Homo sapiens: one gene and its partners. The protein of the gene in region 3 purifies or fractionates together with the protein of the main gene of each other region. This does not show direct contact. Each region holds a gene or a part of one and is shown on either strand. Other genes may lie near its edges.

What was found.
Region 1: the proteins of WDR59 (region 3) and PITHD1 purify together in Homo sapiens (affinity purification with mass spectrometry; 2 studies listed by BioGRID and IntAct, with this or other methods). This does not show direct contact.
Region 2: the proteins of WDR59 (region 3) and NPRL3 purify together in Homo sapiens (affinity purification with western blotting; 3 studies listed by BioGRID and IntAct, with this or other methods). This does not show direct contact.
Region 4: the proteins of WDR59 (region 3) and HDLBP purify together in Homo sapiens (affinity purification with mass spectrometry; 2 studies listed by BioGRID and IntAct, with this or other methods). This does not show direct contact.

Annotation. Positions count from the first base shown.
Region 1 is NC_000001.11:23,774,135-23,781,420, forward strand, and holds the start of PITHD1 (PITH domain-containing protein 1), read left to right. Parts: upstream 1-4,283; 5' UTR 4,284-4,381; coding exon 4,382-4,579; intron 4,580-5,303; coding exon 5,304-5,347; intron 5,348-5,729; coding exon 5,730-5,807; intron 5,808-7,286. UniProt on the Homo sapiens protein: Promotes megakaryocyte differentiation by up-regulating RUNX1 expression.
Region 2 is NC_000016.10:135,670-143,650, forward strand, and holds the start of NPRL3 (GATOR1 complex protein NPRL3), read right to left. Parts: upstream 3,005-7,981; 5' UTR 2,973-3,004; exon of another isoform or gene 2,666-2,972; 5' UTR 2,599-2,665; coding exon 2,481-2,598; intron 1-2,480. UniProt on the Homo sapiens protein: As a component of the GATOR1 complex functions as an inhibitor of the amino acid-sensing branch of the mTORC1 pathway.
Region 3 is NC_000016.10:74,870,854-74,877,139, reverse strand, and holds the end of WDR59 (GATOR2 complex protein WDR59), read left to right. Parts: intron 1-2,695; coding exon 2,696-2,931; 3' UTR 2,932-5,778; downstream 5,779-6,286. UniProt on the Homo sapiens protein: As a component of the GATOR2 complex, functions as an activator of the amino acid-sensing branch of the mTORC1 signaling pathway. The GATOR2 complex indirectly activates mTORC1 through the inhibition of the GATOR1 subcomplex.
Region 4 is NC_000002.12:241,305,655-241,312,678, forward strand, and holds part of HDLBP (vigilin), read right to left. Parts: intron 1-7,024. UniProt on the Homo sapiens protein: Appears to play a role in cell sterol metabolism. It may function to protect cells from over-accumulation of cholesterol.

The DNA of each region.
Region 1 (7,286 bases), on a different chromosome or scaffold from region 3:
CTCCTGGTATCTGCACTCTTATGAAGTTCCCGCACACACTGAATATGGCTGACCTGTGAAACCATGGGATGTTGCAAAATTGACAATATGGGACTTCTGTGGCTAGGTCATAAAAGACATTGGTGGTTTCTACCTTGCCCTTAGATCACTTGTTCTGCTGAAAACCAGCTGCTGTATCATGAGGACACTCAAACAGTACTATTGAGAGGTCCATGTGTTAAGGAACTGGGGCCTCCTGCCAAGAGCCTGCACAAACTTGCCAGCCGGGGCTTCTCCAGCCCTGGCCAAGCCTTCATATGATTTCAGGCTCATGAGAGACCCCAAGCCAGAACCACCCAGCTAGGACGCTCTCAAATTCCTAACTCACAGAAACTGTGAGATGATAAATGTTAATTGTTGTTTTGAGGAGAGAGGCCATTTCTCTTACTGTCTCTGAAGAGAAGGAAGAAGTAAAAGCTGAAAAACAACAGGAATGAAGTCAGTGGCAAGACCAACTGATGCCACTTACCAGGCCTGAGGTTAAAGATTAACGCCCCCACCCTAACCACATGTGTTACCTATAGATCACTTGCTCAATCTATCACAACCCTTTCACGTGGACCCCCTTAGAGTTATAAGCCCTTAAAAGGGCCAGGAACTTTTTCTTTGGAGAGCTTGGTTCTTGAGACACAACTCTGCCAACGCTCCTGGCCGAATAAAGTCTCTTCCTTCTTTAACCTGGTGTCTGACAGGTTTTATCTGCAGCTTGTCCTGCTACAGTTTTAAGCCATTAAGTTTGGGAATAATTTGTTACACAACAAAAGACAACTAATACAGACCTACTGGGAGGGGAGGAGCCACAGTATTTTGCAGTTCTTCCAATCAGGAGGTGAAGTCTACAGTCTAGCTCTCCACTCTAGAATTTGGATTTGGCTGATGGGTCATTATAGAAAGATTATAGATGTAAGGCTTAAAAAGTGCTTGTGCTGGCAGGGCGCAGTGGCTCATGCCTGTAATCCTAGCACTTTGGGAGGCCGAGGTGGGCAGATCACCTGAGGTCAGAAGTTTGAGACCAGCCTGCCCAACATGGTGAAACCCCATCTCTACTAAAAATACAAAAATTAGCCAGGCGTGGTGGCAGGCGCCTGTAATCCCAGCTACTCGGAAGGCTGAGGCAGGAGAATCGCTTGAACCCGGGAGGGGGAGGTTGCAGTGAGCGGAGATTGTGCCACTGCACTCCAGCTTAGGTGACAGAGCAAGACTCCATCTCAAAAAAAAAAAAAAAAAAAAAAGTGCTTGTGCAATTGAGTCTTGCCCTCTCTTGCTCCTGGGAACTCTGCAATTATCACCATGTAATTTAGCTAGGCTTGTCTGCTGGAGACACGTGGTCCCATCATCCCAGCTAACAGCCAGCATCAAGCAGACGAGAGTGAGACCATCCCAAACTTTCCAGCCCAAGCTGAACTGGCCCAGAAAAGCTAATCCACAGGATCATGCGAATTAATCAATGTTTGTTGTTTAAAGCTATCAAAGTTTTAGGGTAATCTGTTACACAGCATAAGCTAATTGATACAGCATATTTACTTTGTGTGCACCTCCCGCCTCAACCTCCCCACCCTAACCAGGAAACTACTGATGTGTTACAAGAACACTACAGGATGTGTTCAAAGCCTGGTTACCTCCTAACTTTACCTAGTCTCAGACAAGTTAGTTTGCCTCTTTCAGCCTCAGTTTTCCTCATCTTCAAATTGGAGATAACAGTAGGTAATAGCACCTAGCTCTCTTTTTTTTTTTTTTGAGATGGAGTCTCGCTCTGTCGCTCAGGCTGGAGTGCAGTGGCACAATCTCGGCTCACTGCAACCTCTGCCTCCTGGGTTCAAGCGATTCTCCTGCCTCAGCCTCCCGAGTAGCTGGGATTACAGGCACACGCTACGATGCCTGGCTAATTTTTCTATTTTTAGTAGAGACGGGGTTTCACCATGCTGGCCAGGCTGGTCTCAAACTCCTGACCTCAAGTGATCTACCCGCCTCGGCCTCCCAAAGTGTTACAGGTGTGAGCCACCACACCTGGCTGTACCTAGCTCTTAAAGTTCATGTGACAATTAATTGAGATGAACTACATAATGTGCTTAGCACACAGTGCTCAAATAAATCATTAATGAAGGCAACAGGAAAAAGCCAAAATGAGTAGATCTCCGGGGTAAGGCCTGAGTTGGTTCTTCAAAAGGACACTCTTACCAAAGAAAGGCTACCAAGTATATCAGTCAAGTAAACATTTACTGTTTGCCACATTCCAGGTCCCTTACCTGAAACTGTGACCTAAAAGCAGGAATAATTCACGGCACTGAGCTATTTTGAAACAGAACCAAGCTTGCTTATTGCACAAGTAACTAAAATAGGACATCAAAATATTTTTCTTGTTTTTATTTTTTTGAGACAGTCTTGCTCTGACACCCAGGTTGGAGTGCAGTGGTATGATTACAGCTCACTACAGCCTCACCCTCCCAGGCTCAGGAGATCCTTCCACTTCAGCCTCCCAAATAGCTGGGACCACAGGCATGAGCCACCATGCTGGGCTAATATTTTTAATTATTTTTGTAAAGATGGGGTCTCCCTATGTTGCCCAGGCTAGTCTCAAACTCCTGGGCTCAAGTGATCCTCCCACCTTGGCCTCCCAAAAGTGCTGAGATTACAGGCATGAGGCACTGCATGTGGCCCAGAAAATATTTCTGAATGGAACTTGAAAAAATGGATATTTTGGTCTATACTTCACCAGCCCCACTGAGCACTCCAGAGCCAGATGTGAAGGGAAGAGGGTAGCCAGGGTATCCCATAACTCTCTTTCTGTATCCTGTCTTTTCCCCACCAGGGAGTAGGAAAACATTCTATCCTGAAAACAAGATTATTTCACCTCTAAACAGTGACTTTTAATTATTTTGATCTCAACCCACAATATGAAAAACACATCATATTGTGTCTGAATACAAACTCAAAACTGAAACAAAAGTTTCATCAATTGAGACTTGAAATGTGTGATACATTCTGGGTTTTTTTTTTTTTGTATTCTATTTTTTTTTTAAATGTTGATCACAATTCTCTATAAACGGATTTTAAAACCTATTGACAGGCCACAACCAGCTGTTCGAAAAAAAGTACTTTGAAATATCACATGGGGGAGGAAACGCAGAGATCATCTAGTCCAATCCCTTCACTTCACAGGGGGTAAACTGAGTCTCAGAAGATCAAGTCACTTGCCCAAGGCCACGCAGCTAGTAAGTTGCTGTGGTTGGATTTGACCGTAATAACCATCGGCTACTGAATGCCCATCATGTGTCAGCCATTTGCTGAGTTTTTTCTTTTTTTTTCTTTTTGAGACAGAGTCTTGCTCTGTCGCCAGGCTGGAGTGCAGTGGCGCGATGTCGGCTCACTGCAACCTCTGCCTCCCGGGTTCAAGCGATTCTCCTGCTTCAGCCTCCCGAGTAGCTGGGACTACAGGCTCGCGCCACCACGCCTAGCTAATTTTTGTATTTTTAGTAGAGACGGGGTTTCATCATGTTGGCTAGGATGGTCTCGATCTTTTGACCTCGTGATCCGCCCGCCTCGGCCTCCCAAAGTGCTGGGATTACAGGCGTGAGCCACCGCGCCCGGCCTGCTGAGTTCTTTAATTGCATTATTTCATTTAATACTCACTGTGATCCTATGAAACAGATACTATTCTTTCCACCTTACAGACGGGGAAACGGAGTCTCAGAATAGGGGAAATGACTTAAGGTGTCACAATGGCCAGTAGCAGACCCAGGAGTAGTCTTTAGGTCTGGCCGTGCACAAAGCCCCATGCTCTCAAGCTGTAACCCCGCTATCAAGAAAGTGGTTATGCAAGTGGGCCTGTGAGCTCTCAACGTCTAAGCCGTGCGCATGTGAGACAGCGATAAGCTCGCGTTCTCCAGTCTCCAGGGCCTTATCATTCCTCACGCTTTCCTTCATCGGCTCGCAAAGAAACGTGGCGATCAAGGAAGACAGCGAAGGCTCCATCCTCGTCGGGGGAGGATAATTCGAATCTCAGCCTGTGAGTTTACTCAGCACACCTGTTTAATCTCTTGGTCCTTCAGTTTCCACACCTAGGAAGCTGGAACAGCAGCAGCATCCAGCGCCAGGACTGGAGTCATATACGAACTCTGGCACCTGGGAGGCGCGCGTCCTACGTCAGTTCCGCTCGACCCCACCCCCCCCGCCCCCCCGCCTTCTCCCCACGCGCATGCGCCGCGCAGCGGCGCTTTTTACGACGCGGCAGGCGCGGCGCGCTTAGTTGCCGGAGCTGAACGGCGCGGAGCTGGTCTGAGGCGAGCCGAGCCGAGCGAGCGCGGCGGTGGGGCCGAGAGGACGCGCAGGTGGCGGCGTTGCCATGTCGCACGGTCACAGCCACGGCGGGGGTGGCTGCCGCTGCGCCGCCGAACGGGAGGAGCCGCCCGAGCAGCGCGGCCTGGCCTACGGCCTGTACCTGCGCATCGACCTGGAGCGGCTGCAATGCCTTAACGAGAGCCGCGAGGGCAGCGGCCGCGGCGTCTTCAAGCCGTGGGAGGAGCGGACCGACCGCTCCAAGGTGGGCCGCCTGGGGCTTGGGGCGGGCGGGGCAGGGTGCGTGTGGGGCCTCGGGCCGTCGGTCTACTCATTTCTGATGTTAAGAATAACGACAGCCTGGTTGCCAAGCGCTTTTCCGTGCCTGTCTCCTGCCAGCTCTTTGGGAGGCGAGCAGCGTTGTCTCCCCATTTTGCATATAGGGAAACTGAGGCCTAGAGGGAACGGGGACAGTTTTGTCAAGCTACACAGCCTAACGCTCTATTCCAGGGCTGTGTGGGCTAGAGAGGATGGTCGTGAGGGCCGTTGGACCATTGGTGCTAATGGCTGCCTCATCATATTACCTGGTGAAGATGAGCCTAGGGAGATGAAAGGTGGTTCCCATATAGAGCAAATGTTCTTTACATTGTGGGGTCGCAGGCCCCTTTGCTATCTGTTTGAAAGCAGTGGACCTTCTTCTCAGAAAAATGCACATAAACACCTGCCTTTCAGTTCACACTTCAGAAGGCTCTTCGACCCTGGAAATTCATTCATGGGCTTTTTGTTAAGAACCTTCCAGTTGGGTGGCCTGTGGCTGTTATGACACTGGATAAGACTGGTTAGCTTCAAGTTAATAAGTCTTGGAAAACCAAGGGAGAGTGACTCTTCCCATTGCACCCCAGTTGTAGAGCAGGGTGGGAGATGCCTGAAATTGTAGGCTCTCAGCAAATATTTGTTGCTTTCTCCTCCCCCCTCCCCATCCCCTCCAGTTTGTTGAAAGTGATGCAGATGAAGAGCTTCTGTTTAATATTCCGTAAGTATCTCCTTGGTGCCTACCTCAGGCTAAATAGGCTGTACCCAGTTGCCTCAGATGGATTCATTCACTGGTGTCAAGAGCACACATTTGCTTCTAGAAATGGGATAAATTACTTTGGTGGGTTTGAGGAGGAAAGCATCATAGCTTTCTTGGTGCAGACTGGAAACAGATGTATTTGTAGAACAATAACTGAGAAATTGAGGTAGATTTCTTAGAATTGTAGAATGCTAGAGGTAGACAGGATCTTAGAAATTATCTAGTACAAGTTGACAGATGAGTAAACTGAAGCCCATACAGGGGAAGGGTCTTGCCCAGGGTCACACAACTAAACAGGTATTCAAACTCAGGTTTGACAACCTTCTCTTTTGCATTCTGGCAGATTTACGGGCAATGTCAAGCTCAAAGGCATCATTATAATGGGAGAGGATGATGACTCACACCCCTCTGAGATGAGACTGTAAGTGGCAAAGGCTTAGGCCCTCAAAGGAGCTCCTAATTCTCTTTTTCTGGTAACATTTTATTCCAGAATAGTATCATTTTCTTCTTACCGGGTTTAATATTTCCCCTTTTAAAATATCTTGGTCCTGTTCTCATTCTGCATTGGAATACATATATTTCTTCCTGAATTAATGACTTTTTTAGATTAAGCATCTTTAGGCCCAACAGCGTGTCTCATATTTCAAAGTGCTTACTATGACATGATTCATTCAGAGAGCATTGTGTAAATGTCACTTGTTGATGACTCTGCAGTTTTCTTAATAACTAGCTGCAGATCTCATATGATCTTTATGGATTCTAGGGGTTAGCTTCAACATTTTTCCTTGCTATTTCATACAGTAATGATCTTATGTGTTTTGTTGACATGGAATTGCTCCACCTGACTTTGCGTGGCATTTAGTTAGCAAAGTTGTGTATACCTCTTGCAACACTGAATCTTTTGCCACCAGAGCTAGTACCCTTTTTGACAACTTACCTTATTCCAGAACAGCCTTCCTAAAAGAAGGGGAAAACTGCTTTCTGAGTGCTGGAGAAACATATAAGAAGAACTTTACATTTAAAAAATTCAGTCCGGGTGCAGTAGCTTATCTCACAAAACCAATAAAAGATGATATATAGGCTGGGCACAGTGGCTTACACTTGTAATCCCAGCACTTTGGGAGGCTGAGGCGGGCGGATCACCTGAGGTTCGAGACCAGCCTGGCCAACCTGGTAAAACCCCGTCTCTACTAAAAAAACAAAAATTAGCTGGGCCTGGTGGTGCGTGCCTGTAATCCCAGCTACTAGGGAGGGTGAGGCAGGAGAATTGCTTGAACCTGGGAGGCGGAGGTTGCAGCGAGCCGAGATCTCGCCACTGCACTCCAGCCTGGATGACAGAATGAGACCCCATCTCAAAAGTAATAATAAAAACAAATAAATAAAAAATTCAAATCCTAAAGGCCGAGCATGGTGGTTCACACCTGTAATCCCAGCACTTTGGGATGCCGAGACTGGTTAGGAGTTCAAGACCAGCCTGACCAAGATGCTGAAACCCCGTCTCTACTAAAAATACAAAAATTAGCCGGGCATGGTGGCACACGCCTGTAATCCCAGCTACTTGGGAGGCTGAGGCAGGAGAATCGCTTGAACCCAGGTGGCAGAGGTTGCAGTGAGCCAGGATCGTGCCACTGCACTCCAGTCTGGGTGACAGAGCAAGACTCCATCTCAAAAGAAAAAAATAATTCAAATCCCAGCACTTTGGGAGGCCGAGGCGGGCGGATCACTTGAGGCCAGGAGTTCAAGATCATCCTGGTCAACATGGCGAAACCCTGTCTCTACTAAAAATACAAAAATTAGCTGGGTGCGGTGGCACAGGCCTGTAATCCTAGCTACTGGAGAAGCTGAAGCATGAGAATCACTTGAACCGCGGAGGTGCAGGTTGCAGTGAGCCAAGATTGCA
Region 2 (7,981 bases), about 75 Mb from region 3:
TGTTGTTGTTAATAATTTTGGAGAGCAAAACGCCTTTCCATTTAAAACAAAACTCAGAAACCACAAGAGATTAGACTGAAAACTCCACAAAAATCAAAACTCTGGCAAGAACTACACAGAAGCAAACAGGGTGACTATAGCTTTGTCCCAAGACCTATTTTTACATTAAATATATAAAGAACTCCTTCAAATCTATAAGGAAAAAAAATCAAACAACCCAAGAGAACATTAGGCAAAGGTTATAAATAAGTCATTCACTGAAAAGGAAATCCAAATGGCTCCAAAAACAGGAAAATATGCTTTCTATCTCAATTAAAAGGCAAATAAACATTAAAATTACTACCAGATATAATTTTTCACCTACCAGATTAACAAAGATTGAAAAATCTAACCTATTAAAAATAAATATGCTCTTTATCCCTTAGACCCAACCATGCTACTTTGGGGATTTAATATTACAAGAATTCTGCAAAATGACAATACCTGGAAAGAACGTTTGAACTTTTCGTATTAGCAAAAGATTGAAAACAATTTTGCGTCCATCAACCAAAAGGACACGATAAACAAATCACAATATGTTCATCTCATGGAATTCACCGTGGCCGGTAAGAAGGACAAGGGTGCTCGACAGGTTCTGATCTACATCAAAGATGCAGACATGAAGTGAAAACGAAAACAGGGGCAGAACAGTGTGTATGGTGTGACTTTGCTTGTGCTTAGAAAAAAAACACAAGTGCAGGCTGGGCGCGGTGGCTCACGCCTGTAATCCCAGCACTTTGGGAGGCCAAGGCGGGCGGATCACAAGGTCAGGAGTTGGAGACCAGCCTGGCCAACATGGTGAAACCCCATCTCTACTAAAAATAAAAAAAAAAATTAGCTGGGCATGGTGGCGCATGCCTGTAGTCCCAGCTACTCGGGAGGCTGAGGCAGGAGAATTGCTTGACAGGGGGTCGGAGGTTGCGGTGAGCCGAGATCACGCCACTGCACTCCAGCCTGGCAAGACTGCAAGACTCGTCTCAAAAAAAAAAAAAAAGAAAAAAGAAATACATACGCCTGTATTGACACAGAAGGTCCTGGAAAGACACAGAAAAATGGGAACAGTAGTTACCCCTATGATGGAAACTGAGGGCTGGGGGCCAATAGTAGGAAAGAACTTTCTTTTCATAATCTAAACTCCTTTGTATCTTTAAAACTTTCTGCCATATCAACAAGTTTAAAAATAATTTTAAAACAAAATACAAAATAAAAACTGAACAGTCCGGGTGCGGTGGCTCACACCTGTAATCCCAGTACTTTGGGAGGCCGAGGCAGGTAGATCATTTGAGGCCAGGAGTTCGAGATCAGCCTGGCCAACATGGCAAAACCCCATCTCTACTAAAAAAAAAAAAAAAAAAAAAAAAAATTGCAGGGTGTGGTGCACATGCCCTGTAGCCCCAGCTACTTGGGAGGCTGAGGCAGGAGAATCCCTTGAGCCCGGGAGGTGGAGGCTGCAGTGAGCCGAGATCACGCCACTCAACTCCAGCCTGGGCGACAGAGTGAGACTCCGTCTCAAAAAATAAATAAAATAAAAACAAAAACTGAACATTCATGATGATGAAAAATCAAAAGTAACCTACATGCCGTCCACAGGGGAAGGCAGCAGCCTGCAGCCAAGGGTGAGGTTGATCCCTGCTTGCAAAGGCAGACGGAGCTCCAAGGCCGACTATGGGAAAAGGGCGCCACAGAACAATTCGTGCGATGAAAAACCTCACGCGACGTTCCCTTTTCCTGTGGATAGATCTGCATCTATGCACAGGGCAGACAACTCCCAACACGGCCAGGGGTGATCCCTGTGCTTGCTAGAACTGGGGGTGGCAAAGACAACTTCAGATGTTCACGTAACTTTTTTTTTTTTTTTTGAGACGGAGTCTTGCTCTGTTGCCCAGGCTGGAATCCAGTGGCGCGATCTCGGTTCACTGAAACCTCCGCCTCCCGGGTTCAAGCAATTCTCCTGCCTCAGCCTCCCAAGTAGCTAGGATTATGGGCACGCACCACCACGCTCGGCTAATTTGTTTTTTTTTATTTTTATTTTTTCAGTAGAGACAGAGTTTCAACCATGTTGGCCAGGCTGGTCTCGAACTCCTGACCTCAGGTGATCCACCCGCCTCGGCCTCCCAAAGTGCTGGGATTACCGCCACCGGCCTTGTTCGTGTAATTTTGTATTTTCTCATGATGAATACATCCCAAACTCATTTTATTTTATTTTACTTTATTTTTTAAAGGCTGGAGACTGATGAAATGTCAGCAGTAGTTGCTTTGGTGTGGTGAACAATGCATGATTTTAATTTTTTTTTTCCTTTTTCTACTTTTCAAATACTCTACAACGAGCAGATCTCGAATGCCCAGCAAAAGCTAAGCTCCGCGAGGCGGCCCTGGAATGAGGCGACCCCGGAATGAGGCGGCCCCCGCGAGCGCCAGGCCCCCGCCCAGCGCTCACTTACTTGTCTGGGACGCCGGGTGCTCCTGGCTTCTCTGGAAGGGGTACCTGAACAGCAGCTTATTGCCCCTGCTCCCCGAGCTCACCAGAATCACGCTGATGGGGCTGGTGTTGTCCCGCATCCCGCCGTGGGGCCGGGGCCGGGGGCGGAGGGGGCCAGAGGAGGACGGAGCCGGAGGCGGAGGGGGCCTGAGGAGGACGGAGCCGGAGGCGGAGGGGGCCTGAGGAGGACGAGGCGGGGACGCAGGGGGCCTGAGGAGGGCAGGGGTGGAGGCGGAGGGGGCCTGAGGAGGGCAGGGGTGGAGGCGGAGGGGGCCTGAGGAGGGCAGGGGTGGAGGCGGAGGGGGCCTGAGGAGGGCAGGGGTGGAGGCGGAGGGGGCCTGAGTAGGGCAGGGGTGGAGGCGGAGGGGGCCTGAGGAGGGCAGGGGTGGAGGCGGAGGGGGCCTGAGGAGGACAGGGGTGGTGGTGGACGCGGAGCAGCGCCACAGTTACCAACCCACGTGCCACGCTCCGGGCTCGCGAGACTTCGGCGACACCGTCCGGAGGAGGTGCTAAGGCGGCGGCCGGGAGAACGGCGCAGGCGCAGGCGCAGGCGCAGGCAGCGGAATGCGCAGGCGCGGGGCCTTCTGGAAGCCACCGAGTTCCGCGGTGCTGTCTGGAGCCGTACGGTTCGCGTTTGGGGCACAGGGGCCCCTCTTGCTGGTGCGGATGGGAAAGGCGCGGGGTCGAGTCAGCGTCCCTCTCGATGTTGGTTTCTTCGTTTTACAAATAACACTTGGGCGGGGCGCGGTGGCTCACGCCTGTAATCCCAGCATTTTGGGAGGCCGAGGCGGGCGGATCACGAGGTCAGGAGATCGAGACCATCCTAGCTAACATAGTGAAACCCCATCTCTACTAAAAATTAGAAGAAATTATCCGGGCGTGGTGGCAGGCGCCCGTAATCCTAGAGGAGAATCGCTTGAACCCGGGAGGCGGAGGTTGCATTGAGCCAAGATCACGCCATTGCACTCCACCCTGGGCGACAGAGCGACGAGACCCCGTATCAAAAAAAAAAAAAAGAAAGAAAGAAAGAAAAAAGAAAAAAAAAAGGCCGGGCGCGGTGGCTCACGCCTGTAATCCCAGCACTTTGGGAGGCCGAGGCGGGTGAATCACGAGGTCAGGAGTTCGAGACCATCCTGGCCAACATGGTGAAACCCCGTCTCTACAAAAAAAAAAAAAAAAATTAGCCGGGCGTGGTGGCGGGCGCCTGTAATCCCAGCTACTCGGGAGGCTGAGACAGGAAAATCGCTTGAACCCGGGAGGCGGAGCTTGCGGTGAGCCGAGATTGCGCCACTGCACTACAGCCTAGGCGACAGAGCGAGACTCCGTCTCAAAAAAAAAAAAAAAAAAAAAAAACACTTGGAAGCCGACAGGAGATCTTTGAGACCTTGGGCGAGGCAGTGACACTAAAGGCAGGAGCGACTACAGAAGAATAAATTAAACTTCATCAGATTAAAAACTTTACTGCGGCCGGGCGCGGTGGCTCACGCCTGAAATCCCAGCACTTTGGGAGGCCGAGGTGGGCAGATCATGAGATCAGGAGATCTAGACCATCCTGGCCAACATGGTAAAACCCCGTCTCTCTACTAAAAATACAAAAATTAGCTGGGTTTGGCGGCGCCTGCTTCTAATCCCAGCTACTCGGGAGGCTGAGGCAGGAGAATCGCTTGAAGCCGGGAGGCGGAGGTTGCAGTGAGCCGAGATCGTGCCACTGAACTCTGGCCTGGCGACAGAGCGAGACTCCATCTCAAAACAAAACAAAAACTTCGGTGCTTTAAAGGACACCATCAAGAAAATTAAAAGTCCACCCACAGAACGGGAGAAAATATTTGTAAGTTACATATCTGATAAGGGAATTGTATCTAGAATGGAGGAAACTTACAACTCAACAATAAAAAGACAATTGAAAAATGCACAAAGGATATGAATATTTTTCCAGTGCATTATGCAAATGGCCAATAAGCACCAGAAGATGCTCAGCTCAACTGGTAGAGGCTTACGCCTGTGACCCCAGCGCTGAGAGGCCAGGAACTCCAGACCAGCCTGGGCAAAACAGAAATTAAAAATGCTCAACATTATTAGGCATTAGGGAGATGCAAATCAAAACTACAAATAGATGCCACATCACACCTCCTACGATGGCTGTAATCAAAAAGACAAGCGTCAGCAGGGGTGTGGAGAAACGGGAATCTCTCTCCTGCTGGTGGGAATGTAAGAGGCTACACTCGCTATGGAAAACAGGCTGGCAGTTCCTGAAAGGTTAGAGTTAACACAACACTCGGCAAATCCCCCTTTTAGATATATAGCCAAGAGAAATGAAAGCATATGTCCACACAAAAACATGTGTGTTCTTAGTAATATTATTCATAATAGCCCAAAGTGGAAGCAATCCTAGGGTATATCAATTGATGAATGGGTGAATATGGTATAGTTTGTTTAAGGGAATACTATTCAGCCATAAAAAGGAATGAAGTACGGCACATGAATCCATCTTGAAGACACACTAATATATGATTCCATTTATATAAGATGCCCAGAATAGGCAAATCCATAGAGACAGAATGATTAGTGGCTGCCTAGGGCTTCCAGGGGGTCAGGGGAAATATGGAGCGATTCATGGGTTTTTTGAAGGGGAGTGATGAAAATGTTCTAACGTTGACTGTGGTAATGGTTGGACAGCTCTGAGAACGCGAATACACTAAAAGACATGGAAGTGCCGGGCGCAGTGGCTCATGCCTGTAATCCCAGCGCTTTGGGAGGCCAAGGCAGGCGGATCGCGAGGTCAGGAGATCGAGACCATCCTGGCTAAGACAGTGAAACCCCGTGTCTACTAAAAATACAAAAAATTAGCTGGACATGGTGCGGGCGCCTGTAGTCCCAGATACTCAGGAGGCTGAGGCAGGAGAATGGTGTGAACCCGGGAGGCGGAGCTTGCAGTGAGCCAAGATCGCACCATTGCACTCCAGCCTGGGCGACAGAGCGAGACTCCATCTCAAAAACAAAAAAAAGATATGGAAGTGTACACTTGAAGTGGATAAGCTTTATGGTATGCAAATTGGTATGGTATGGTAAATTATATCTCAATGAAGTTGTTTTTTAAAAAATCACCCCACCTACCCTATCCCAGGCTTCCCCAGGAGGTAACTAAAGGTAATGAGCTTCTTTGGCTGCTTCCAGAACTTTCCCAAGCACATCAAATGCATCAGAACCTAACCACTTGACTGAGGGATGAGCATTTTCACTGTTGCAAGTAACCCTCTTGCACCAACACTGACACTAATGTGTATTTTGCAGAACAAATTTGTGGATTGGCCTCACCAGGGTGAAGGGTACGTGCATTTGAAATGGCTCAACAGTACCAACAGGTGCGTTTTCTTGCACAGGGCTGCATAACATTTTTTTTTTTTTTTTGAGACAGAGTCTCGCTCTATCACCCAGGCTGGAGGGCAGTGGCACAATCTCAGTTCACTGCAAGCTCCACCTACCAGGTTCACATCATTCTCCTGCCTCAGCCTCCCAAGTAGCTGGGACTACAGGTGCCCGCCACCACACCAGGCTAATTTTTTTTTTTTTTTTGAGATGGAGTCTTGCTCTGTCGCCCAGGCTGGAGTGCAGTGGCACGATCTCAGCTCACTGCAAGCTCCACCTCCCAGGTTCACACCATTCTCCTGCCTCAGCCTCCCCAGTAGCTGAGACTACAGGCGCCCGCCACCACGTCCGGCTAATTTTTTTGTATTTTTAGTAGAGACGGGGTTTCACCGCGTTAGCCAGGATGGTCTCGATCTCCTGACCTCTTGATCCACCCGCCTCGGCCTCTCAAAGTGCTGGGATTACAGGCGTGAGCCACCGTGCCCGGCCTGCATAACATTTTTTTTTTTCCTGAAATTCCCAGAAAGGAAAATGGTGTCTTGTTCTATGTTGCATTTCTTTGATTGAGAGGGAGAGCTGCATCACTTAATTATTTGCAGAGAATTGCTTTTCTTGTTTTCTTTACAGGTGGTCTGTTCTTGGATGGTCTGGCTGTGTTCTTTCTGAGGAATACATAACCTCTGCTACACATTTTGCAAGGCTTTATCCCCGTTGTCCATGTTTTGATTTTATGTATAATCAAAAGGTTTGTGAGTTCTCCCGCACTTCCCAGGAGTGCCTCTGGGATGGAAATGAGACTGCAGGAGCAGGGCTTGAGGCTGGAGGGGTGAGATGGGACAGATGGGGGTGGGGGAACCCAGGGCAGTGGCCGGTGGTGGTAATGGAGGCCTCCTCACAGGGACCCTCACAGCGACCATGCGAATGGAGCAGGACTGTGACTCAGGTCTCGCTCTTCTGACCTAATCGTGCTGCTGCCCCAATGGGCAGAACCTTGGGGCTCCAGACTGGACATCTCTGGGCTCAAAGGATCCCACTGTTCCCCCGGTTACCCTCTCAGGGTTGGCCTCCTGCCAGTAACCCTGGCACTCATTGTTCATTCTTCTGACTATCGTCAGTCATAATGAGAGCTCGAACTGGTGAAAGTGCAGGGAGCTCACCATGACCCCAGCCCACAGAGGTCCTGGGTGCGTCCCTGCCCTCGAAGCAGCACTCTGGATCCCAGCGCCACCCTCATGTCCATGTTTGCACCTCATTGGCTGTGACAGAAATGAGACATCATTGTCACACGCTGGCCTGAGGGTCAGTGGGCCTTGCTTTGGACCTCAGTTTCCCCACCAGTAACAGGGTTCAGAGCAGATGGTCCCTGAGTGAGTCCCAGCTCTAAGTTCTCCCAGGGTCTCCTGGACAATGAAGCACCAGGGCCAACCTCCATTTGCTACAGGGGACATCCTCAGGCTCTTCTCTGCTAAGACCCCACACCTCCAAGTCTCCTCATTTTACCTTTAAATAGCTGTTTCATGACCTGCTTTTTTGACGGTAAGTAGATTTTTGGAAACTGAAACCCCTGACCCTTCCTCCCAGCCTGGGCCTGCCCTTGGCAGGATAGGAGGCCTTATCGGTCCTGCCACTTGGTCTGGGCCTCAAAGGGCCACCGCCATCTGCAGGAGGGCCGGGTGGGGTTCACAGACGCTATCTGGGACTTGCCTGGACACCTCCACCTTCTCAGCTGAGTGTTGCTGCCCCACCAGGGAGAACCACTCACACACAGTAGTAATAGAAATAATTTAAAATTCATGCTGCAAGTTCCTGAGCGCCCTCCCAACACTGAGGTGGGGGCTAGTCTAATCCCCATCCTAGAGGTGAAAACAGTGAAACTAGGACTCACAAGGCAAATTAGCCTGTTCAGGGTCACCGAGGGTCCACTCTCATGGGAGAGTTTGCAGATGCCCAATCCGGCATTCTGCTGAGTGTCCAGTGGCTTGTAAGTGGCCAGACACCCTTTGAGCTCAGCCTCAGCTGCTCAGGCACAGAACGTGCCTGGAGCTTGGAATTCAGGCCAGAAACCACCAGTGGACACCAGCATTCCACACTCACTGC
Region 3 (6,286 bases):
TTGATCGTTTTAATAAAACTGGAACATTTCCCTTGATGAACTAATAGAACACATCAATTATCTTGAATACAGATTCATATCTCATACTTGCAAGTGGTATCTGCTTTGCAATTTGTATCTAGTGTAGCCCCAGCCTCCCAGAGTCATTCTTCTTCCCTCAGAGACCCAGAGAAAACCTGGAACCATTAGCGACCGGCACGATTAGTGGATTGTCAGGGATATTCCAAAGGCAGCCAGGTGTGAGACACCTTGCCAGCTCTGTTTTTGGGAACACATTCCACATCCCTTTGTATGCCCTGAAGTGGTGAGAGGAAGCACGCACCAGCAAGGCCCACGGGCATCTGCCTATCCTTCTCAATCGGTTCATACGCTGAGCCATTCCATTGTGTATATACAGGGCAGAGGCAAGGGAGAGCGTCCTGGGGCTTTTATGTTTTCTGTCTTTGTGAATTTAGATCTCCTTAGAAATTGTCCAGATCCCCCCAAAGATCATTCGCTAATTAACGAAATGAAATATTAGTTCAGGGTCTTAAAGTTAATAAGGATCTTGAAAACTATATTTAATCCGATTCACTGTAGAGAAACACAATTATTAATGATACTGTGAGATGACATTTTAATAATTTTACCCAGATAGATATGGAGAATAATTAAGTTTACAGTTATCTCAAGTACCAAGGAACAAACCCTTTTAAACATTAGAATTAAATTTACCTGAACACACAATATTTACATTCTCATAATGTTGGCCAATAAAACCAGTAATGAAAATTTGAGAGTTTTCAACTAATTAGGCTTTTCATGAGAACATAACCAAAGTTTGTACATAATATAAAAAATTATGCTTAGAGGGAGAAGACATAGCTATTTTTAAACCAAAATTTTCAAACCAGTCTGATTTGTCTCAAGATTTGCCTTAATTGGAACTATCATAAAATATGCCCTTAGGTACCACATATCAGAGGAGTTTTTATTGGCCTTTTTTTTCTGACCACCAGTTGTCATTCAACAGAGCAGCCAGTTCTGCTAGAAGAAAGGACCCTCCCTCTGTTGTAAGAGGGAAGGAGAGGTGGGAGATTGGAAGATGCGTGGTGTAACGACGAAGGGAAGTGAGAGACGAGGCTGGCAGGTGCAGGAGCCGGGAGAAAAGGCATGAGGGAAGAGTTTGCAGAACGTGGTGGAGGCCCGAAGTCACCATCTCGGGGACAGAAGGGAAACACAGGCTCCGCGCAGGGCTAGGTGTTGTGTCCGTTGGTGATCGCGTGTATGAAGTGAGATGCATTTCTTGAACATGGGCCTTTCTCCAGGATTGCTCAGCCTCTTGTGGGCAGGCATGGAGTGGGCAGGTGATATGGGTCATCCAGGGTAGAGGTTTTGCCAGGTGGTGCAGGAGATGGGCAAAGGAATTGAAGGCATTTGCAAAATAAGTGATTATAAAGTGAGTCCATGTAATTCAGGTTGGCCAAAGGGCAAATTGCAGCTAGAAAGGGGCAGGTGGACTGAAGGGTTAGTGGTGATGGGTTAGGGATGAGGGCAAAGACCTGAATGGCCGGGTGGGCACTGGGTTAGTGGTGTAGGTTTGGGAGACCTCCAGGATCATCTAAGAACTGGGGTAGAGAGAAAATTGAGAGCCAAGAACAAGTCTTCAGTGAGTGGGGGTGTGTCTCCAGAATGTCCTCAGATGACACAGAGAAAAGGGGGAAAGGCTGGTGAAGCTGGATGACATTGGCCTCCAGCAGAAAGGTCAGTCTGGAGGCAGCGATGGGACACAGTCCCCACCCACTGCCCCTGCAGTCAGAGGACTTAAGCAAGAAATGGCCTTTCATCCAAAAGCCAGCAGAGGCAGGAGGGTCAGGTGATGAGGGGACTATTGCCAGCAGAGTAGATAGAGCAGGTTTTACTCAGGGTAGCCCAGTGGAACCAGTCCCCGCCCGGCGGTGGAGCGGCATCCCGGTGTCCTGACTTGGGCCAGTGGCGAGTGGGCAGTAGCAGGCGTTGGTAAAGCCAGTCTGCCCTCTGCTGAAGTGTTACTGCTGAGTCATTCAGTTCTTTCAGCTGATACCTGTTCAACACCTCCTGCGTGCCAGGCCCTGCCAGCCGTCGGGGTGGGAAGAGGCATCAGACGCAGCTGCCCCCTGCTGTAGGGCACTGGGTTTCCATGCGGAGCCCCTGAGAAAATACAGTACTCAGCAGCTGGGTGCAGTGGCTCAGAAGAAGGAGTTCTGGTGTAAAAAAAACAAAAAAAAACAGGCTGGGCACAGTGGCTCACGCCTATAATCCCAGCACTTTGGGAGGCCAAGGCAGGTGGATCACCTGAGGTCAGGAGTTCGAGACCAGCCTGGCCAACATGGCGAAACCCCGTCTCTACTAAAAATACAAACTTAGCTGGGCGTGGTGGCAGGTGCCTGTAATTCCAGCTACTCGGGAGGCTGAGGCAGGACACTTGAATCCGGGCTGTGAAGGTTGCAGTGAGCCAAGATTGCACCATTGCACTCGAGCCTGGGTGACAAGAGTGAAACTCTGTCTCAAAAAGAAAAAATAAAAATAAAAAAAACAGAAAATGAAAACCACTGGTCTAAGAGAATCTGCTAGAGTCTTGAGAGGAAGACTTCCTTCTTCCTGGCAAGCCCCAGTTTCCTTTTTCAGAACTAAACTCATGCTGCCTCTTGTTTTGCCCGTCCCTGCCCATTTCCAGAGTTCGGCGTGTACTGCAGCCACTGCCGGAGTGAGGTCCGTGGCACGCAGTGTGCCATCTGCAAAGGCTTCACGTTCCAGTGTGCCATCTGTCACGTGGCTGTGCGGGGATCGTCCAATTTCTGCCTGACCTGTGGGCACGGTGGCCACACCAGCCACATGATGGAGTGGTTTCGGACCCAGGAGGTGTGTCCCACCGGGTGTGGGTGCCACTGCCTGCTTGAAAGCACTTTCTGAACCTACAGAAGTTGGGTATTGTCTGAAATCCCAGAGGACCCATAAGTGCCGGTGACAAGCTGTCTGTCAGGGGAGAGGCTCCAGAACCTGGGTTCGTCCCCAGTGAGACCGGAGGATGATCCCCCAAGGACTGCGCAGCATCAGCTCTTGGTGGGCCTCTGCCTTCTCTTCTGTTTGGCCACCTGGTGTGGATGTCACTGTGTGAAGATAAGGACAGAAGTGCAGAGCTGCGCTTTGTGTGTTGTCTATGTCGGCTGAGCTACCAAGGTGGAAGTTTTCATGGAGAAAAGCACCTGGCTCCAGGGCCAGTGTTACAGTGTTACCCTGTAAGGTGTTAGCCTTAAACCACCGAGCAGCGTTCTCTTGATGCCAGTGCAGAGACCAGAGTCAGATGCCCGAGGACAGTGGGTAGGAATTTCATCAACAAATGGACCTATGGCATCATGGCTTTAGAAGCTGGTACATTTACTGAGCTGATGGACAGTGGCCTTCTAAAATATGACACTTAAATTGTAAATATGCACTGTACTTAAGGATTCTTAAGATGTATTTTTTTGTTATTTCTCCTCCAGCTGCTATCCCTTGGCTAATAAAATTCTAGTAATTTGAAAAAAAAAAAAAAGAGAGAAAGTTAAACAACATTATGGTGAATCATTTTTTACCCTAATTCTAATTGAAGGTAGCTATTTTGAATAGGACCAAAGTCAGTGCTCCGATTTTTAAAGGAAATGCTGATTTACTTTTGTCATCTGACAAGAGAAAATGGAATTTGACATTTAAGGTTCTTCCTAGCCCCAAGAGTCTTATTTCTTCTAGCAAAAGGAGGACAAGATTGCCGTGCAGCATGGATAGAAAAGTCTCCCTGGCCAGGCCCCATGGCTCATGCCTGTAATCCCACACTTTAGAAGGCAAAAGTGAGGGGATCACCTGAGCTCAGGAGTTCGAGACCAGCCTGGGCAACATAAGGAGATCCCATCTCTGCAAAAAATTTAAAAAATAGGCCGGGCACGGTGGCTCATGCCTGTAATCCCAGCACTTTGGGAGGCTGAGGTGGGAGGATTACCTGAGGTCAGGAGTTCGAGACTAGCCTGGCCAACATGGTGAAACCCCATCTCTACTAAAAATAGAAAAATTAGCCGGGCATGGTGGCGGGCGCCTGTAATCCCAGGTACTGGGGAGGCTGAGACAGGAGAATCGCTTGAACTTGGGAAGCAGAGGTTGCAGCGAGCTGAGATTATGCCATTGCACTCCAGCCTGGGTGACAAGAGTGAGACTCTGTCTCAAAAAAAGAAAAAAAAAATTAAAAAAATAGCCGGGTGTGGTGGCACATGCCTGTGGTCCCAGCTACTTGAGGGGCCGAGGTGGGAGGATCACTTGAGTCCAGGAGGTTGAGGCTGCAGTGAGCCTTGATTGCACCGCTGCACTCCAGCCTGGGCAACAGAGTGAGACCCTGTCAATAAACCAAAGTCTTCCTTGCCTCTGTTCAGATGGGCTGGGTTCCAGTGAGTGCCCTCACTCTTCCTTTAGGCTCCCTCGCAAACTGCCTGTGTTTGCCTGTGTTCTGAGTAGTTATAACATCTGTGTCCACCAATTCTTCAGAATGATTTTCTTTTTTAAAGTTAAATTTTTTTTTTTTTTTTTTAGAGAGAGAGACAGGGTCTCACTCTGTCACCCAGACTGGAGAGTGGTGATGCAATCATAGCTCACTGTAGCCTCTATCACCTGAGCTCAAGTGATCCTCCCACCTCAGCCTCCCGAGTAGCTGGGACTACAGGTGTGCACCACCATGCCTGGCTAATTTCAGAATGATTTTCAACTTCACATTTTGTATGTGCCAGTGAAAAGAAATCTTTTTTATTATTTCTACTGAAATATCTATTTCTGTTTCTTAGAATTTTACAGTTCCAAGTAGATTAGCTTAGGGACTAGGACATGTCTCATAATGGGAGAGCATTGCATATTCATGTGTTTCAAACTCCAGGTCAGGACCCATTAGTGGATTGTGACATTGATCTAGTGCGGAAAACCAGCATTTAAAAAAATGAAATGGTGTAAGAGAAAAATGATCACAATGTACCATACATAGCTAAGGAAAATGTTTTGTGTAACTTGTTTACGTGTGTGCAGCACATGTGTGCACAGGTGTATACCGGATCATAGCGTAAATTCATTTCTTACTGAAAGTTGTAGTCAAAACATTTTCACAACACTGTTTTGGATGAAGCTTATACCTCGTCCCCTGTGTTACTGGGCACAAAACTTCAGGATGTAAGAAAGAACTGAGATCCTGTGCAGTGGAACCAGAGGTTTAGTGCTGGGCTCTGGTCTGAGGTAAGGTGCCAGTGTCTCAGTAGCGTGAGCAGGGCGGGGGAGCCGCTGGGAGGATGACAGGAGAAGGCCCAGCCGGGAATTTGCATACACAAATTCTGTTGTAATGGTGATCACAGAATAGGTTGGCTGATTTACACAGAGAGAAAGGATCTGTTGTGTTCCTCAGTGAAATCACACCATTTGCAGAGAGCAATCTTTTCCTGTTCCCCACTGCTCAAGTTAGTGTAAAAACCTGTCCCTATCTGTCCCCATCAAGAATGAGATGTTTTTCTTGTTTTATTGTTGGAGGAACATTGACTTTCAAAATTGAAAAACCTTAATGGTGTGAAGAAATTTCGAGTTTAAAATATTACATAATGTCATCCTTCAATACGGAAATTCCTTTTGAATTTCCAAGTTACCAGAACAAAAGTCTAATATTTTAAAATATTCATGTTTGGAAACAGGTTGGTTGTCTGGTTGCGGGCCATGGCCGATATTCTCTCAGCCGCAGAATAGATGATTACAAGCACCTGAGTCTTTTGTTTGTTTATTTGTTTTTAAGAGCAATACAAGGCCAAGTGGGGTGGCTCACGCCTGTAATGCCAGCACTTTGGGAGGCCGAGGTGGGTGGATCACCTGAGGTCAGGAGTTCAAGACCAGCCTGGCCAACATGGCGAAACCCTGTCTTTACGAAAAATGCAAAAATTTTCCGGGTGTGGTGGCGGTTGCCTGTAATCCCAGCTACTCAGGAGGCTGAGGCAGGAGAATCGCTTGAACCCGGGAGGCGGAGGTTGCAGTGAGCCGAGATTGTGCCACTGCACTGCAGCCTGGGTGACAAAGCAAAACTCCGTCTCAAAAAAAAAAAATGAATAAAGGCAATACAAGCTATGTTTGAAAGTACCTTTGCAAGAAAACAGGCCCAGCAGTCGTATTTGTGCACCAGAAACAAAAGGTTGCTCAGGCAGGATACTGGAAAGGATGGGGGAAGGGGCGAGCCTCAGGGCAACCACCAGGTTGACTATTTGTCCCTGTCCCTAACCCC
Region 4 (7,024 bases), on a different chromosome or scaffold from region 3:
AGATGTGCCCTGGGTAACAAAAATCACCCTGGTGATAACCACTGCTAGAAATAAATAGCGTGATGACTAGTATATAGGAAGCAATGAATACAAAGTTGTTTATTTGTTTTTTTTTTTTTTTTTGAGATGGAGTCTCGCTCTGTCGCCCAGGCTGGAGTGCAGTGGCGTGATCTCGGCTCACTGCAAAGTTCCGCCTCCCGGGTTCACGCCATTCTCCTGCCTCAGCCTCCCGAGTAGCTGGGACTACAGGCATCCGCCACCATGCTCAACTAATTTTTTGTATTTTTAGTAGAGACGGGGTCTCACCGTGTTAGCCAGGATGGTCTCGATCTCCTGACCTCGTGATCCACCCACCTCAGCCTCCCAAAGTGCTGGGATGACAGGTGTGAGTCACCGCGCCCGGCCAAAAAGTTTTAATAGGTGAGGATTTTTATATCATTCATGGATTCTTAAACGTGATCACAAAATCAGATGTTTTATGAGTGACTACCAGCTCCAAGTGTTATCCTTCCAAACTTGAAAACTGAATTTCTGATAAACTGAGTTACCCAGGTTCTGAGGCATCTGTTTAAAAAAAAAAATGAAAAATGAAAAACCCACTCAGAGATTCAGCTTTTTTTTTTTGAGATGGAGTCTTGTTCTTGTTGCCCTGGCTGGAGTGCAATGGCGTGATCTCGGCTCACTGCAACCTCTGCCTCCCAGGTTCAGGCAATTCTCCTGCCTCAGCCTCCCACAGCTGGGATTACAGGCATGAGCCACCACGCCCGGCTAGTTTTGTATTTTTAGTAGAGACGGGGCTTCTCCATGTTGGTCAGGCCAGTCTCGAACTCCTGACCTCAGGTGATCTGCCCGCCTCAGCCTCCCAAAGTGCTGGGACTACAGGCGTGAGCCACTGCGCCTGGCCTCAGCTTTCTTATTTTTAAAAGAAAGGAGCTGAAATCCTACAGGTCAAAAAGTACCCCAAGTCAGGCTGGGAGCAGTGGCTCATGCCTATTATCACAGCACTTCATTGGGAGGCCGAGGCTGGCAGATCATTTGAGGTCAGGAATTCGAGACCAGCCTGGCCAACACGGCAAAACCCTATCTCTACTATTGTGCATGCCTGTAGTCCCAGCTACTCAGGAGGCTGAGGCAGGAGAATTGCTTGAACCCGGGAGGCGGAAGTTGCAGTGAGCGGAGATCATGCTGTCATACTCCAGCCTGGGTGACAGGGAGAGACTCTGTCTCAATAAATTAAAAAAAAAAAAAAAAGTATCCCAAGTCCCCAAGTCATAAGGCTGATAAGAACAGGTCCAGGGAGTAGCTCTGAACCTATTCAAAAAAAAAAAAAAAACGAGGAAAAGCCCAAAATTGAAGTGAGGTCTCCTGACTCCCAGTACAGTCAAAGACACCATCCTTTCATTTTTGTTTCTTTTTTGGGGGGCGGGGGGGACAGGGGGGCAGTGTCATCCTAACCTGGATAAACATCTCAACTCTTTGTTGAGTCAGGGAGAAATAATCAATATCCTGCCTTCTGTACCTAAGACAGCAAGTACTGCTGCAGGTCTCACAAGGTCTACCTCAAGAACTTCTGAGACTACAACAGAGGGAAAAGGCAAGCCCTAGAGTGGATCTGAAAAACGCTTATTTGAAAGAATTCATCGAGACTGCTCACGCCACTTGCTGACTGTTGACTTTGACATCAGCCACTTCTTACCTCTTCCTGCCCCAGGAGAGACCTGCGGTCATAGCACTGGGGTCTCTGGGATACAGCTAAGCCTCCTGAGAGACTGGAATGGGATGGGTAGGGGCTACACGAATAATGGTTTAATTAACATTGACAGTATTAATAGATTAATACTGCAGTGGGCTTGCTGTAGTGATGGTCTACCAAGGAACTTGATTTTTTAGCTTTAAAAATATTCTAAAAGATAACTCAACAAAACAATGTAAAAACTGGCAACCCCCCCATGAGGCTTTACCAAAAAATATATTCTAAACTGTATCTTCAAAACTGTAATTTTAATTATACTTTAATTATAATTTTAATACATGATTTAAATAAAAATAGGATCTTACATGCATTCTTTCACCATCTGCTACACTTATTTTCATTTGAAAAGACACCATGGCCATCTTTCCGAGTACCAAATACAAATTTACCTCATTTGTTAACAACTACATGTTGAGTGGAGTAAACATACCTTAATAAATCCCCTACTGATAGGACCCTTGAACTAATTTTTTTTTTTTTTTGCGATTATAAACAATGCTGGAAAGAACATCCTCTGCTCACTTGGGCCTCTACCCCCACAGGATAAATTGAATTGGAAATGGAATTATATGATGACAGGCAATGCATTGATAGATATTGCCAAGGTAAAACTGCCCACCTCCCAAAGAGTTTAACTAGTTACACTCACAACACCTGATTACAGAATACCTGTCCTCTTCTCCTTTGAGGACAACTAAAATGATCATGTTTATTCTTTTTTCCAGCCTGATGTGCGGGAAATACGATTTTAATGGCAACTCTGATCATCAGTGAGACAGCAATCTTGTTGAGCTTATTGACCTTTTGAATTTCTGTACTGTGAAGATCAAACTAATCACAACCAATCCGTCGTCCACCTTTCTACCAGTGTTTCAGCAACGCTTGTGAGACAAAGCAAAATCCACATCTGGGCAACAGAGCAGTAGGAATGAACAGAAAGAATTATAAATTTAAGTGAAACTCAAGTTGTATGCCAAAAATAACATTCCTAAAGGGCACCCAGGCAAAAGTGATGAGAAAATACTATTAAAAAGGACATCTTTTGCCTCAATTAGTCACACAGTAGACAACGTAAGCTGATGACCTGAGACACCTCAGCCTGCCAAAGTTCCGTTTCATTCACAAACATTAACCTACTCTGCTTTAAGAGAAGGGCTCCCCCAAAAGGTAATTGTGCTTGCAGAAAAGCGTCAAAGTGTATACTGTTTTGCGGGGTATGCAGACCTGGGTAGATGGTAGACTGAGGCTGACTGACAAGGCCAGGTTAGGGAAGCAGTGAAGTAGCTGAAGGCACAAACTGGAGCCAAACCACTAACTCTAGCCTTTGCCTCAGGGTCTACCTCGACCTGTGATAACAACAATACTTGCCTCCTACAGGTGACAGGAAAAGTAAGAAATGTCGTGAATGGTGTGGCCCATGGTCACTTCACCACGATCCACCACCAGTACTGGGTCACTCTGCTCCAGCTCTCCAAAGGCATCAAGATCCGACTGCTAGGAGCCCCGGCTTCTTCCCTGACCTGCCCGTCTCCTACACCCTCTGGTCCTGCTCCACACTGGTCTAATAACTGGTGTTCCACATTCCTCTAACGTGCACAACACAGTCCTGCCCCCGTGCTTTTCACCTCCTGTCCATTCCTCTTATAACGCTCTTCCCCAGATCGCTGCCCATGGCTTGTTTGCTCATCTCAAGTTTGAATCAACTGTCGCTCAATCAGCAAGGCCTCCCCACTATGCCAAACTGCCACTGTGTCCCCCACTCCACTCCCCTCGATACTTTATTTTCCTCCTTTCTTCTTGTCCACATTGGACATACTGCATATCTGCTGGTCTGCTGACTGCCTGACACCGCTTACCAAAACGTGACCTCCGTGAAAGTGCAGGAGAACACACTTGCATTTTCCTTACTGTGTCCCACTTCCTGGAACAGTGTCTCCAGCACGAGCCGTTGTCAGATCAATACATTTACACTACTTCGTGAAGCACCACTAAAATGATAGTAAACGATTTTTTCTTTTTTTAAGATACAAATCACGAAAGCAAAGAATAAGAATAGAGATAAGAACATTAAAATACTGGAGGCTAGAAACTGGAAACAGACCTAAAAGGGCTGAATCCTGTATCGGCAATGGGGAAGGCCAACTGGCAATATGACTGGAAGCCAGGAGACCTGAATTAAAAACAGAGTTGGCTGATAGGTTTAAAAGGCACGAAGATCCCTAAGATGCACCCCACAACTCTGCACAGCCACACAGAGCCAACCTGCACAGTCCCTCTCCTATCCTGGCAAAAAGGTATCGCTTTTCTGTCTGCAAAGGGAAGTAGAATCTTTGGACTGGGGACACCAGTTACAGAGGAGGGAAACAATTCTGAAAAGAGGGAAGTAAGCTCTTTTATGGTTACTGCTGTGCTCCCAGGCCTCTCTCCTCACTTGGCCACTCAGCCAGGCAAAGGGCTACAAGATATTTCTCTGGGGAATCTGAAGAAACCCAAAGAAGCTGACAAGGGTGCTGTAAGGAAATGGCCCAGCCAGGTGCCTCTGCAGTGAAAGCCACAGTCAGCCACAGACACAGGCTCAGAGGCCCTCTGACTCACGAGCAGGCACAAGAACATCACTGCATAGCCCAGAAAAGGCTGACAAAAGCCAAAAACCCACAACAAACCAGAGCAGCCTCAATAGTGACTTAAGGAAAAAGAAAACAGGGAAAAATAAAACCTCATCAATATCTTCCAACAGTTAACAGGAGATACCACATTCATGAAACAAAAAATAGGTTATAAAATAGGAATAGAGGGAACAAGAAAAAGCTCTTAGAAATGAGAAAAACCTTGGTAGAAGGGCTGGAAGACAAACTTGAGAATAACTTCCAGAAAGAAAATGAAAAACCAAAGGGTACAAAACATCAATTAGACAGGAGGAATGTGGTTTTCTTTTATGAGATATATTGTACAGCACGGTGAATATAGTAAATAATAATGTCGATTTCAAAAGTGCTGACAGTAATCTCATATGCTTTCACCACAAAAAACTTAAAGTATTTGAAGTGATGAATTATGTTAACTTGATTTTATTATTTATTGTATCCATAAATCGTAACATCACTTTGTACCCCCTAAATATGTACAAGTATAATTTGTCAATTTACAATTTAAAAGATAAAAACAAAAACAAAAATTTTAGAGGGGGGAAAAAGAAACCTTAAGAAAATTATGAGTGCCAATCCAGAAAGTCCAAGAGTAGAATTCTAGAGAGAGAGAGAGAAAGCAAATAGGAAGAAATCAAAGCAATAAATCAAAAAAATGCCCAGCGTTGAAGAACATGAGTTGCAAATAAACAGGACCAAAGAGTAGGCAAGACGATGGATGAAAACAGTCTCCAAGGGACATCACTGTTCTGGGAGTTCTGAATTTCACAGAAAGAAAAGCCTCTGAGGCCAGATGCAAAGCCTTCACTCCCAGCACTTCGGGAGTCTGAGGCAGGAGAATCACTTGAGGCCAGGAGTTCAAGATCAGCCTGGGCAACATAGAGAGCTCATGTCTACAAAAAGTTTTTAAAATTATCCAGGTGTGGCGGTGCATGCCTGTAGTCCCAGGTACTTGGGAGGCCGAGGCAGGAGCATCACTCAAGCCCAGGAGATTGCAGCTGCAGTGAGCTATGACAGCGCCACCGCACTACAGCCTGAGCAACAGAGCAAGACGCTGTGTCTCAAAAAAAAACAAAAGAAAGAAAGAAGAAAAAAAAGAAACAAAAACCTTCAGGTTTCATGGAGGAAAACATAGTCACACACAAAGGCTCTAAAAATGTTACGTATCAATAAAAGAGAATCAGAACGGCTTAAGACTTCAACAACACTGGAAACTTAGAGACCGCGGAGCAAAATGATGTCCAAATTCCTACTCAGGATAAGAGCAGAACGAGGCACTTTCGTACATACAAATTCTGAAAACTTCATCTGCCATGCACTTCTCAGGCAACTAGTGAAGGATGTGCTCCATCGAAGTGAGACAGTCAAATCAAGAGAATGACATAGGTTCCAGAAAAGTGAGGCTCCAACACAAGAGGGAGTGAGGAGAGTTACAGGAAGATTTCAGGCACAGACAAGCCTGCAGCAGATTGGAGGCGCTGGGAGAGATTTATTCAAGATAAAATGATAGGAATACTAATTTTCTTCAAAAGAAAACGGACAATTTCTTGAAAGATTTAGATAATTGCTTCAGAATTTGGGGTTGAATTGTAGTGACAAAATATAGAAAACTGAGCAAGCAGCAAGCAAACAAAAACAAATAAGACTTGTAATAACCCAGGAAAACAAAAAGTTATCCAGAAAAGTGAAAACAATCCTATTATACCACTTCGTCCAGCTGTAAATGGCAATATGTAGTCATAATATAAACAATCAATACTGAACTAACCAAATTAAGGATATATCACTTTGGGCAGCCATGGATCCGTTTGCACTGAGAAGGCAGAGGGTGAAAGAAAGCTAGGAACTTCCTACCTATTCTCAGTGTCAAGCGAAGAGACATCACATGAAACAGGGGTAGGAGACACAAATACAGACGTCAAGCAAATATGCTCTTTAGAGTTGGAGGCAAAGATCAAGGAAATCTACTAAGGCTGAAGTAGATACTCTGCAGGGGAGGAAACATGATTAGGGGAAGGATGTTGGCACTTCTTTCTTACAAGCCTTTCTAGGATTATCTGACTCTACAAATGACATGAAGCTGTAACCTTGATTTGAAATAAGATTAATATGAATGCTAATAAAAAGTAGTAAGGGAGAGTATGTAGTCAATGTATTCTTACCAAATTAACAACAAGTATCAACAAGATGACTAACACAACCACATGATGTCCAGACACGTCTCAGAACAAATGTCTAGCTCATCTTCAACGGTATTCGAGGAACTTCAGTGTGCTTGGTAAAACAATAGCCTACTAGGGATTTCACTTCTAAAATGTCTCTGACTTTAGAAATACCAAAAAATAACATGTAACCAAGTTTTAAAATATTATACACATGAAAAAAGGTTCTTTTCATTATTTTCTTGGTTTCCAGATGTTGAACGTTGTGGTGCTTTTACAATTGAAGAGAAAAAGCATTCTGACACATTATACTGGTTGGGGTTCTCTGCTTTTCTACTTGGTCAAAAACCTTTACACGCATTTTGGACTTTGTGTCATCATAACTTGGCAATTGGGAAAGCCGCATGATATGCTTCTTTCAGAACTTGGTTACTTCTTACCAAAAGAGGGAAAAGCTTTCGTAT